Regions from separate parts of the Homo sapiens genome. Here region 2 is linked to region 1. Evidence: fine-mapped expression QTL. A gene starts in region 1. The other region holds a variant in brackets. All regions are shown on one strand. Distances are between the middles of the regions. Region 1 holds the start of TMEM116 (transmembrane protein 116). Region 2 holds the start of LOC124903024 (a long non-coding RNA gene).

What was found. PIP is the estimated chance that this variant, and not a neighbour inherited with it, causes the effect.
Region 2: its variant is the best candidate, but not a certain one, in a credible set for the expression of TMEM116 in fibroblasts (GTEx, PIP 0.58).

Annotation. Positions count from the first base shown.
Region 1 is chr12:112,010,909-112,016,284 of GRCh38, forward strand. It overlaps TMEM116 (transmembrane protein 116), which reads right to left and starts at 2,257. Exons shown (of 11, transcript NM_001193531.2): 1 at 2,094-2,257. ERP29 (endoplasmic reticulum protein 29) reads left to right here and starts at 2,518. Exons shown (of 3, transcript NM_006817.4): 1 at 2,518-2,701. The coding sequence starts at 2,558. RefSeq lists enhancers at 215-728, 1,233-2,121, 1,992-2,181, 3,852-3,991 and silencers at 2,342-2,421, 2,762-2,851.
Region 2 is chr12:112,488,031-112,493,406 of GRCh38, forward strand. PTPN11 (protein tyrosine phosphatase non-receptor type 11) reads left to right here. Exons shown (of 16, transcript NM_002834.5): 12 at 413-480; 13 at 994-1,145. LOC124903024 (a long non-coding RNA gene) reads left to right here and starts at 1,154. Exons shown (of 2, transcript XR_007063467.1): 1 at 1,154-1,958; 2 at 2,988-3,394. The variant A/G (reference allele first, on the strand shown) is at 2,762.

The DNA.
Region 1 (5,376 bases):
GCAGCCTGGACCCCTGTCTTCAGGCCCTCCCTGACCTGAAGGTGGGGTCTTACTGGGGACTCACCCACTTCTACCCTGGAATCAATCTGCCTCCCATTGCCATTCTTGGCCCCAAGCCCGCTCTGAGATTGGAGCAGGCCCCGGGAGTAGAGAGAGTCCAGGCGGTGGGAACAGACACTCCTGAGCCTGCAGGGATTGCAGTAGGGTGTCTTGCTGGTCCCCCAAGGGTGCAGGCTGCAGAGATGCCCAGGTCCTGCACCTGGGAGGGCAGCCACAATGGCACCAGGGGCTCCTGCCTCAACTCAGAAGGGGCGGGGCTCCCACAGGCTCCATGGAGTGTGCAGCCCCAGTCACACCTCCCTGCTGCAGCTGGCTGCCATCAATAGGGCAAACTCAAAATTTTTCTTAACTTCCCCAGACACATTCACACATACACACACACAAACACACACACACTTTCTTTCAAAATTTATATCCAATCAAACTGGTTGTCCATGATTGGATCCTGTTATCACTGTTGACTATTTATACACATACATTTTGGAAACATACAATGGTTAATTATAGCAGTAAGTCCCTTACAATGCATTGTATATGTTCTCTTACATGCATTTGTTCATCAAATCTTGTGAATTCTACCCTTTAAAAGTTTGTCAATTCCATCCATACTTCTTCAGCCCTATTATGTCCTACTGCATGACCTTAACCTCTTCCAACTAGACTATTGCCATACCCCATTAATTGGCTTTAGTCCCGTCTTCTCAATTCCAATCCATTTCCTTCATTCCTGAGTAATGTTGTTTTTGTTTTGAGACAGTCTTCTCTGTTGCCCAGACTGGAGTGCAGTGGCAGCAATCAGGGCTGACTGCAGCCTCGACCCCTCAGGTCCAAGTGATCCTGCTGCCTCAGCCTCCCAAGTACCTGGGACCACAGGCATGCACTACCACACATGGCTAATTTTTCTACTTATTGTAGAGACGAGGTTTCATTACGTTGCCCAGGCTGACCTGGGTGCTGTTTCTACACACAAATCTAACCTCACTCTCCTAGTTAAAACTTCTGGTGACTCCAAACCCTTTAGCTTGGTGAGACCCTTTCGAATCCGCCCCATGGAAGCTCAGTAATAATCAATCAAAATAAAAAAGAGCGGCAGCAGCTGTTGCGCCAGTTCGCCTTTACATAGATTCATCTCAACCAGTTCCCCAACATGCCTGTGCATAATTTTCCCATTGTTAGAAATGCCCTGTTTCTCTTTGCCTCATGCACGCCCCCTCTTATTTCAAGGTCCAGCTCAAAAGTCACCTCCTGTCTACAACTTCCTCTGATGCTCCTGAGCAGGGATGGCTGAATCTCTGTCTCTTTACAATAAGAAAATACGGTCTTTTTTTTTCTTTTTGAGACTGAGTCTCGCTCTGTCACCTAGGCTGAAGTGCAATGGCGAAATCTCGGCTCACCCCAACTTCCGCCTCCTGGGTTCATGCAATTCTCCTGCCTCAGCCTCTTGAGTAGCTGGGATTACAGGCACGCACCACCACACTCGCCTGATTTTTAGTAGAAACGGGGTTTCACCATGTTGGCCAGGCTGGTCTCGAACTCCTGACCTCAGGTAATCCACCTGCCTCGGCCTCCCAAAGTGCTGGGATTACAGACGTGAGTCAACGCGCCCAGCCGGAATAATATTTTACAGCAATTACACTGCACTGTTTAGATCATTATTCCTATGCCGCCTCCTCCCCCAACAAAGTGCGTGCCTTCAGCACACAACGGTCTTGTTTCTGCTTATTCCGTAGCCCCGCAGGCAAAGCCAGAGTCTGGCACAAGCCAGGGACCGAGTGACTACCTGCGGAACAGAATGATTAGAATTGCGTCTGGGGTTCCTGGAGGGTGGGCCTTGGCTGGGCGGATCCCAGGAGCCTGGCGTCTCCCAGGGGAGGCGCTCACCTCAGATCGGGCCTAAGAGGGCCCTGCTTGCCACACTGACCGCCAAGCCTGGCCAAAAAGCTCAGGGAAGCCGCGGAGCCACTGCCCGCCTGGGTCAGGGTGGTGACGGAGCCTGACTGAGAATAACGGCTGAACTTGACTAATAGACTGACCGAGGGTTGGAGCGGGTCCCAACCAACTGCCTGACGGCCCAAAGGCAGGAAGAAACGATGGTAGGCCTTGTCATCTTCGAAGGAGAGGAAGGACAGCAAACGAATTGCTATAGCGTCCCCATGCGCACTTGGCGCTTCTCCTCAAGCGGAGCAGGAACGGAACTGGGCGGACCCGCCGGAAGACTCGGCGAGTGCGCGCGCGCAGGAGCCCATTTTCCCGCCCGCAACGTGGCCCCGCCCTTTTACCCAGGCCCTACGCGAGCTTCGCCGAGTACGCGTGCGCAGCAGCTTCCCCTCCCTCGCCCCGCCCCTCACGTGGCCCCACCCTCTCACCCTAGACAGATGGGAGCCTCCTGGGGTGTCCACGTGAGCGCGCGTGAGTCCGCCCCCCCAGTCACGTGACCGCTGACTCGGGGCGTTCTCCACTATCGCTTACCTACCTCCCTCTGCAGGAACCCGGCGATATGGCTGCCGCTGTGCCCCGCGCCGCATTTCTCTCCCCGCTGCTTCCCCTTCTCCTGGGCTTCCTGCTCCTCTCCGCTCCGCATGGCGGCAGCGGCCTGCACACCAAGGGCGCCCTTCCCCTGGATACGGTCACTTTCTACAAGGTAACCGGGGCGGGGGACGTCGCGCGCAGGTGCCGCCGGGGCGCCCGGAAGAGCGCGCGCCCGTGGGGAGACGCTGGATTCCGGGAGCTGACGGGAGGTGGTCTGTAGCAACGGTCCCAGAGCTTCCCGGCGTCCTACAGGCCTAGTGGACTCTGAGCGGAGAATGTTATGACCACCGGGCATGCACGCTTCAGGGCCCCGGCGCACCCTTGCTTTTGCAGCATTTATACTTGCATCCACCCTTGCAAAGATGCAGCCGAGGGAACTGGGTGCCCCTTCCCTTCACCTGTGGGGAGAGGGCGGTGCCTGGCGAGATCCAACCCTCGAGTCCCAAGTGGGAGAACCGGAGGGCGGTGCGAGGTCGACGCCACCGGGCTCCCGGCTGTGGAAGCTGGGAGGGGTTGGCGGGGGGAAATGCAGGCGCGTTAGCCTGCGTGTCCGCGCCCCTCTTCCCAGGGTTGGATTGCAGCCTGCTTTGCAGTGTGCAAACAATGATCAGATATCATACATCTTGAATAGTGCAAGCGTGAAGAATAAGCTTCAGTTCAGCCACCCTGTAAAGCAGGGGTCCCCAACCACCAGGCCCGTCGGTGGCCTGTTAGAAACCGGGCCGCACAGCAGGAGGTGAGCGGCAGGCGAGCTAGCACTACAGCCTGAGCTCCGCCTCCTGTTACATCAGCTGCGGCATTACATTCTCATAGGAGCACGACCTTTATTGTGAACTACGCATGTGAGGGATCCAGGTTGTGTGCTTCTTATCAGAATCTAATGCCTGATGATCTGAGGCGAAACAGGTTCATGTCGAAACCACCCAACCCCGTGGAAAAGTTGTCTTCCATGAAACCAGTTCTTGGTGCCAAAAAGGTTGGGGATAGCTGTTGTAGGAAACATCTTGGGGTTGGCAACAAAATCAGTAAAATTGGGTCAAGGCATGGAAGAATTTGCCACTACCTCCGCCTTTCCCCCCTTCCATTTTTGCAGAATTAGGGATCCTGGCCTGAGTAAATGGACGGTTGGAAATGGTGGCTGAATGCAACACCGCAGTCCCAGTCCCCTCCTCTTGCACCTGTCTTCACCCACGAGCAGCTTTTAACTTCCTCTAGGAGATGGGCAAGCTTAGTGTTGCGAGAGAGCCAGTCATTTCATTTTCAGGTTTTGTACTCATTGTGGGGAAGTGAAACCAAGAAGTAGTTGTCTCCAGTGGTTGAAGTCTCCTATTTTCAAGCGTTCCCTGTCGTGGATTTGGCACTTGCAGCTCATTCAAGGCAAAGTTTCAAGAATTTAAAAGTGTAGGCCGGGCTTAGTGGCTCACGCCTGTAATCCCAGCACTTTGGGAGGCTGAGGCGGGTAGATCACCTGAGGTCAGGAGTTTGAGACCAGCCTGACCAACAAGGTGAAACCCCGTCCCTACTAAAAATACAAAAATTAGCTGGGCGTGGTGGTGGACACCTGTAGTCCCAGCTCCTCGGGAGGCTTAGACAGGAGAATTGCTTGAACCCAGGAGGCGGAGGTTGCGGTGAGCCAAGATCACGCCACTGCACTCCAGCCTGGGCGACAGAGCAAATACTCCGTCTCAAAAAAAAAAAAAAAAGTGTGGGCTGGGTGCGGTGGCTCATGCTTGTAATCCCGGCACTTTGGGAGGCTGAGGCAGGTAGATCACCTGAGGTCAGGAGTTGGAGACCAGCCTGGCCAACATGGTGAAACCCTGTCTCTACTAAAAATACAAAAATTAGCTGGGCGTGGTGGCGGGTGCCTGTAATCCCAGCTACTCGGGAGGCTGAGGCAGGAGAATTGCTTGAACCTGGGAGGTGGAGGTTGCAGTAAGCCGTCATCATGCCATGACACTCCAGCCTGGGCAACAAGAGCAAAACTCTGTCTCAAAAAAAAAAAAAATGGTGTAGGTGTGGCTGATTGGTTGTCAGGCATGCTCAGACACACCCTACAGCACCCTATGCTTTGGGGGCCTTTACTGGCAAAATGACACCCCTACCCCACCCTGCTCCATGGGAATCAGATAATATCACAGAACAAGTGTGACCCAAAGGGAAACTTTGCGCCATAAAGCTAACAGTGTTTTCTACTATTACCACCCTAGTCTAGGTCAACATTACAATAGCCTCTTCTCTGGTCTCCCTGCTTCCACTCTTGAGTCTCCACACAGTAGCCTAAGTTCTATATGACCTGACTCCTGGCTTCCCTCTCATCTCCCAACCATTCTCCTACTGTCTTTTGAATATTCCTTGCTCTTTACTGCCTTAGGATATGTTGCACTAGTTGTTCCTTGTGACTGGAATATTCTCTGCCCAAACTTTGAAAGGCTAGTTAGTTACTTCTCATCATTCGGGCTTAGGTTAAGTGTTTCCTCCTTAGAGTTCTTCCTTGATTTATCTTCCCCCCAGTCTAAAGTGCCAGTCACATTAATCTGTTTTATTTCTCCATACAGCACTCATCACTGATTTTTTAAAAATCTATTTTGCCATCTTTCTCTCTCACTGGAATATTATGTGCTCATGAAGAAGCTCCTTGTCTATTTTGTTCCTGATCGTCTGCGCTGCATAACAGATTACCTGTCTCATAGAAGGTGCACAATAACTATTTTGTTGCGTGAATGAACAAACGTTTTCTCCAGTCTCTTTTCAAATCTTCTCTTCCATCACGACTGAACCAAAAGGAAA
Region 2 (5,376 bases), 480 kb after region 1:
GCCTCGGCCTCCCAAAGTGCTGGTATTATAGGTGAGAGCCACTGCGCCCGGCCCTCTTTCAGTAATTTTGATGTATTTTTTTGTATATGATTCCTGTTTCATTCTGTCCAACCAGCACTCTGTATGGTATGTGCTGTTGTCCCCATTTCACAGATGCAGAAATTAAGGGTCAGAGAGGTTAAGGGACTTACCTCAGGCACGTTGTACTGGAGAAGCTGAACTCCAAGAGCAGGTTTGGGCTGACTCCAAAGCCCTATGCTTTTTGCCAACATATTTTCAAACATAAATAGACAATTTTATAAATAGCTCCAAAGAGTAGACATTGTTTCTGTTGATATTAATGGCTTGGTTTTGAGTCTGAAACCCCCATGAATGATTCTGTTGTCCCTGCTTTTTGTCCTTCTGCCCGCAGTGCTGGAATTGGCCGGACAGGGACGTTCATTGTGATTGATATTCTTATTGACATCATCAGAGAGAAAGGTGGGTCATCTGGTGGGCAAGAAGCGACAGTTTCTGTTTTTAGTTTATGGAAGGAAAGTGCTCACGAAAACAGTCTGGGGAAGAGAGGTTGAATGGGAAAATTCTTTCACAAAAATCTGGGCTGAAGACTTCAGTGTGTCTGCCTGAGAACAGAAGTGACACTATTTGAGCTTTTGGCATAAAATGAAGTCTAGGAGCTGCAGAACCCACTGCCATGGCCTTTTGTTGCATACACAGTGGTGGTCTCTATCCAGCCACCTGACCTTGTTTACAGTATGGGGTGATTTGTTGGCAAGTGAGGGAATCCTGACTTCTGCCACTTCGTTATTTATGTAGTCTTCTGGGATCATTGGTATTGGTCAGAAGTTCAACACTGTAGCCATTGCAACATGCTCAGTTAAAACAGCAAAGACTAAATTAGCATTGTCTCTGAGTCCACTAAAAGTTGTGCATTAAACAACTTCATCCTGGCTCTGCAGTTTCTCTTTATTCTTCATGATGTTTCCTTCGTAGGTGTTGACTGCGATATTGACGTTCCCAAAACCATCCAGATGGTGCGGTCTCAGAGGTCAGGGATGGTCCAGACAGAAGCACAGTACCGATTTATCTATATGGCGGTCCAGCATTATATTGAAACACTACAGCGCAGGATTGAAGAAGAGCAGGTACCAGCCTGAGGGCTGGCATGCGGATTCTCATTCTCTTGCTAGGCCTCTTGGATACGCTCTCCTTTTGAGCAGGAGGACAGGCTCTGATAGACAACTGTTTGATTTCGGAATGGGAAACAAACTCCCAACTAAAAGGGCCTCTGGAAACTGTCAATTATTCTCCACTTCTCAGCTCTGATTTTTCACTGCAGAGGAGCTTAGGGAAGGGCACCATCCTATCAGCCTGGCCTGCCAGATTGAAGAACTGCCATGCAGAAAGGTTCTGATGTTCTCAGGCTCATGTGGCAAGCGTAAAACTCAAAGCCTTGAAGTTTCTAGCCTGTTCCAGCCTTGATCCAGGCCATGTTTATCCTGATTCCATCCTTTAAAACGAATGCCTCACTCTTAATAGCGCACGGCAGTTTGAACCACTAATTTGGTCGAGTTGGAAACAGTGAAATTTCAATTTTAATAAGCTGTGCATAATGAAGAGGAATGTGGAATTGGAGCCTTTCCATCTGAAGCTATTCATAACAGGCACAAAGCTGAGTTAATTAGGAATATGCTGAGATGAAGGAAATGAGGAGAGCTGCTCTTTTGGGGGCTGTGCTTCTCTCCCCAACCCCTCAACCCCATTGCCATGCTGCAGATGGGGTGGTGTCTAAACATCAGTGGCGAGTGCCTGCATTACTCTGCTCGTTGCCTTCCAGAGAACTCAGCTTCTCCAAATGCTGAGCTCTTTTCAGAATGGGACCTGCCACCAGTATTTGAAAGATTTCTAGCCTAGCAGAACAGCAGCCACGTTATCAAAGTTTGGTTGGCCAAAGGAAGGTACTTGCTAATTAGTTTAGTAGGTTTTCAGTCCGCACAGACATACGGGATTGTTTTATTGTACATAGACATCTTCAGAAACAGTGTATGTATAGAAATGTAAGGTCAAAATTTGAACCTCAGTGCTTTAAATCTGAATTTGTATTAACTGATATGAAATATTTAGACGGTTACTTTATTTTATATCTGTCTTCCATTATACTTAATTTGGCTCAAGAATAGTTAGGCAAAAAGTTGCCCAAAGAGAAGGATCTCCTAGTAAATACAAAGAGAATGTAACATAGTTGCTACAAGTTGGAGCATGTTCAGGGATGTCTTTTTTTTTTTTTTTTTTTGAGAGAGAGGTCTCTCTCTGTTGCCCAGGCTGGAGTGCAGTGGTGTAATCATGGCTCACTGCAGCCTCAATCTCCCAGGCTTAAGCGATCCTCCCACCTCAGCCTCCCAAGTAGCTGGGACTATAGGCATGCGCCACCACACCTAGCTAATTTTCGCATTTTTTGTAGTGTCACAGTTTCGCCATGTTGCCCAGGCTAGTCTCGAATTCCTAGGCTCAAGCAGTGCTTCTGCCTCAGCCTCTCTGAGTAGTTAGGACTACAAATTTGTGGCTCCATGCCCGGCTAATTTTTTTATCTTTATTTTGTAGAGACAAGGTCTCACTGTGTTGCCCAGGCTAGTCTTGAACTCCTGGGCTCAAACAACCCTCCCACTTTGGGTTTCCAAAGTGCTGGGATTACAAGTGTGAGCCACTGAGCCCAGTGACCTCTGGGTTTTAAAAATGTGTAGGCTTCAATTATTTATTTTAA[A/G]AAATGAAATCCTGCAATATATAGTTTTCTGCGTTGTGTGGTTTGAATCAATCTGGGAACTGGCTTGCTGGCTGATTGTGGTAAAGTAAGAAGTACTTAATTTAGTAGAAAGTTTAAATGGCAGACATAACATTAAACCCAGCTGATTTATAAATGAAGCAAAAGAACAAAACTCATTCAGGATAATTGGTTATTCTAAAATACAGTCATTTCTAAAATTATGAAGTGTTCAGGACCTTTGGGAGTGAAAGAATTTGCTAAAGAAGGATCAGTGAAAAAAAGGAATGATGGGTGAAGAGCTGTGGAGAAGGAAGAGAAGAAACAGCACAAGGAAGGAAGAATATAAAATCAGATGTGGGAATCCAGGGGAAAGTGCAAACGAAGCAAGATTGAGAAAATTCTCAAGTTTTTATAAACAGTTCTCACACTCTGCCAGTTCCTTGGAGGTAGACTTTTTTGTTAACTTCCAACTACAGTAGTGAAAAAAAAAAAAAAACCCTCAAATTTGCAAAAGCAGTCTGTGGAATTTTCTTTACCCAGCTTTCCTGACTGTTAACTTTTTAGCACACTTAACTTTATCATTCGTTTATTCTCTCTGTTTAAAATTAAAAATGTAAATTTTAAAAAGTAAAATGTTTGTTGGTTACAAACATTTATACCCCTTTGTCTCTAAATATCATTTCATTTTAAAAAATGAATAATCTAAGCCTACACATTCTAAAATGTGTATATTTTCTAAAAATAAGGGCATTCTCTTACATAACCAATGTCACAATTATTTGATACAGTGATCAAAATCAGGAAACTAACATTGATATAACACTATTATCTAACCTACAGACCATCTTCAAATTTTGTCCTGCTAGTATCTTTTATGGGTCCAGGGTCACACAGTGCATTTGGCTATAATGTATCTTTTTTCTCTTTTTTTGAGACAGGGTCTCACTTTGTTGCCCAGGTTGGAGTGCAGTGGTGCAATTATGGCTCACGGCAGCCTTGACCTCCTTGGGCTCAGGTGATCCTCCCACCTCAGCCTCTCGAGTAGCTGGAGACCACAGGTGTGCACCACCATGCCTGGCTAAGTTTTGTATTTTTTGTAGAGATGGAGCTTCGCCGTGTTGCCCCGGCTGGCCTTGAACTCCTGGGCTCAAGTGACCCTCCCGCCTTGGCCTCCCAAAGTGCTGGGATTACAGGCGTGAGTCACCACACCTGGCCAGTTATTAGTATGTTTAGTCTCTTTAATCTGGAACAGTTTCTCAGTCATTCTTTATTTTTCATGACCTGGATGTTTTTGAAGAGTTTAGGCCAGCTATTTAGCAGAATGCCTTTCAGTTTGGATTTGTCCAGTGTTTTCTCTTGACTATATTCTAGTCATGCATTTTTGGCAGGACTGTCACAGAAATGTTGTTGTAGTCTTCTTAGTACATCACATCAGGTACACACTGTTGATCTGATTCATTACTAGTGGTGTTAACTTTGATCACTTGAATAAGGTGGTGTCTGTCAAATTTGTCCACCGTAAAGTTACTTGAGCAAAACGTAGCTGGGACTACAGGCGTAGCAAAAAATGTAGCAAAAAGTAGTATTTTTGCTACATTTTTTTTTTAGGAACAAAGTATTTTTCCCTTTTAAGTTAATCTCTTGTCCATAAAGTTATTATTTTTCCCTTTTAAGTTAATATCTTGTGGGTAGATACTGGAGACTGCGTAAATTACCTATTTCTCATAATACTTTTTTTTTTTTTGAGATGGAGTCTCGCACCGTCTCCCAGGCTGGAGTGCAGTGGTGCAATCTCGGGTCACTGCAAGCTCCACCTCCCGGGTTGACGCCATTCTCCTGCCTCAGCCTCCCAAGTAGTTGGGACTACAGGCGCCCGCCATCACACCTGGCTAATTTTTTGTATTTTTAGTAGAGACGGGGTCTCACCGTGTTAGCCAGGATGGTCTTGATCTCCTGACCTTGTGATCTGCCCGCCTTGGCCTCCCAAAGTGCTGGGATTACAGATGTGAGTCACTGCGCCCGGCTCTCATAATACTTTTTGCCTACTAATTTTATATTCATTGATTAAATTCTTGCCTGAAAAAATTATTACTGTGGTATTTGCCAAATGGCAATTTTCTGTTTCCATCATTGCCTTTCCCCCGCTTTTAAAAGTATAAGTGACAAAGAAAAACTGTATATAAAGTGTACACCATGATATTTTGATATATGTATACTTTGTGAAATGATTATCAAAATTGAGTTAAATAATGCATCCAACATCTCAGTTACTTTTTTTTTTTTTTGAGACAGAGTCTTGGTTTGTCACTAAGGCTGGAGTGCAGTGCCACAATCTCGGCTCATTACAACCTCCACCTCCCAGGTTCAAGTGATTCTCCTGCCTTGGCCTCCCCAGTAGCTGGGATTACAGGTGCCCACCATCACACCCGGCTAATTTTTGTATTTTTAGTAGAGGTGGGGTTTCACTACGTTGGCCAGGCTGGTCTCGAACTCCTGACCTCAAATGATCCTCCCGTCTCAGCTTTCCAAAGTGGTGGGATTACAGGCGTGAGCCACTGTGCCCGGCCACTCTTAGTAAATTTTAAGTGTACATTTTTTTTTTTTTTTTTTTGAGA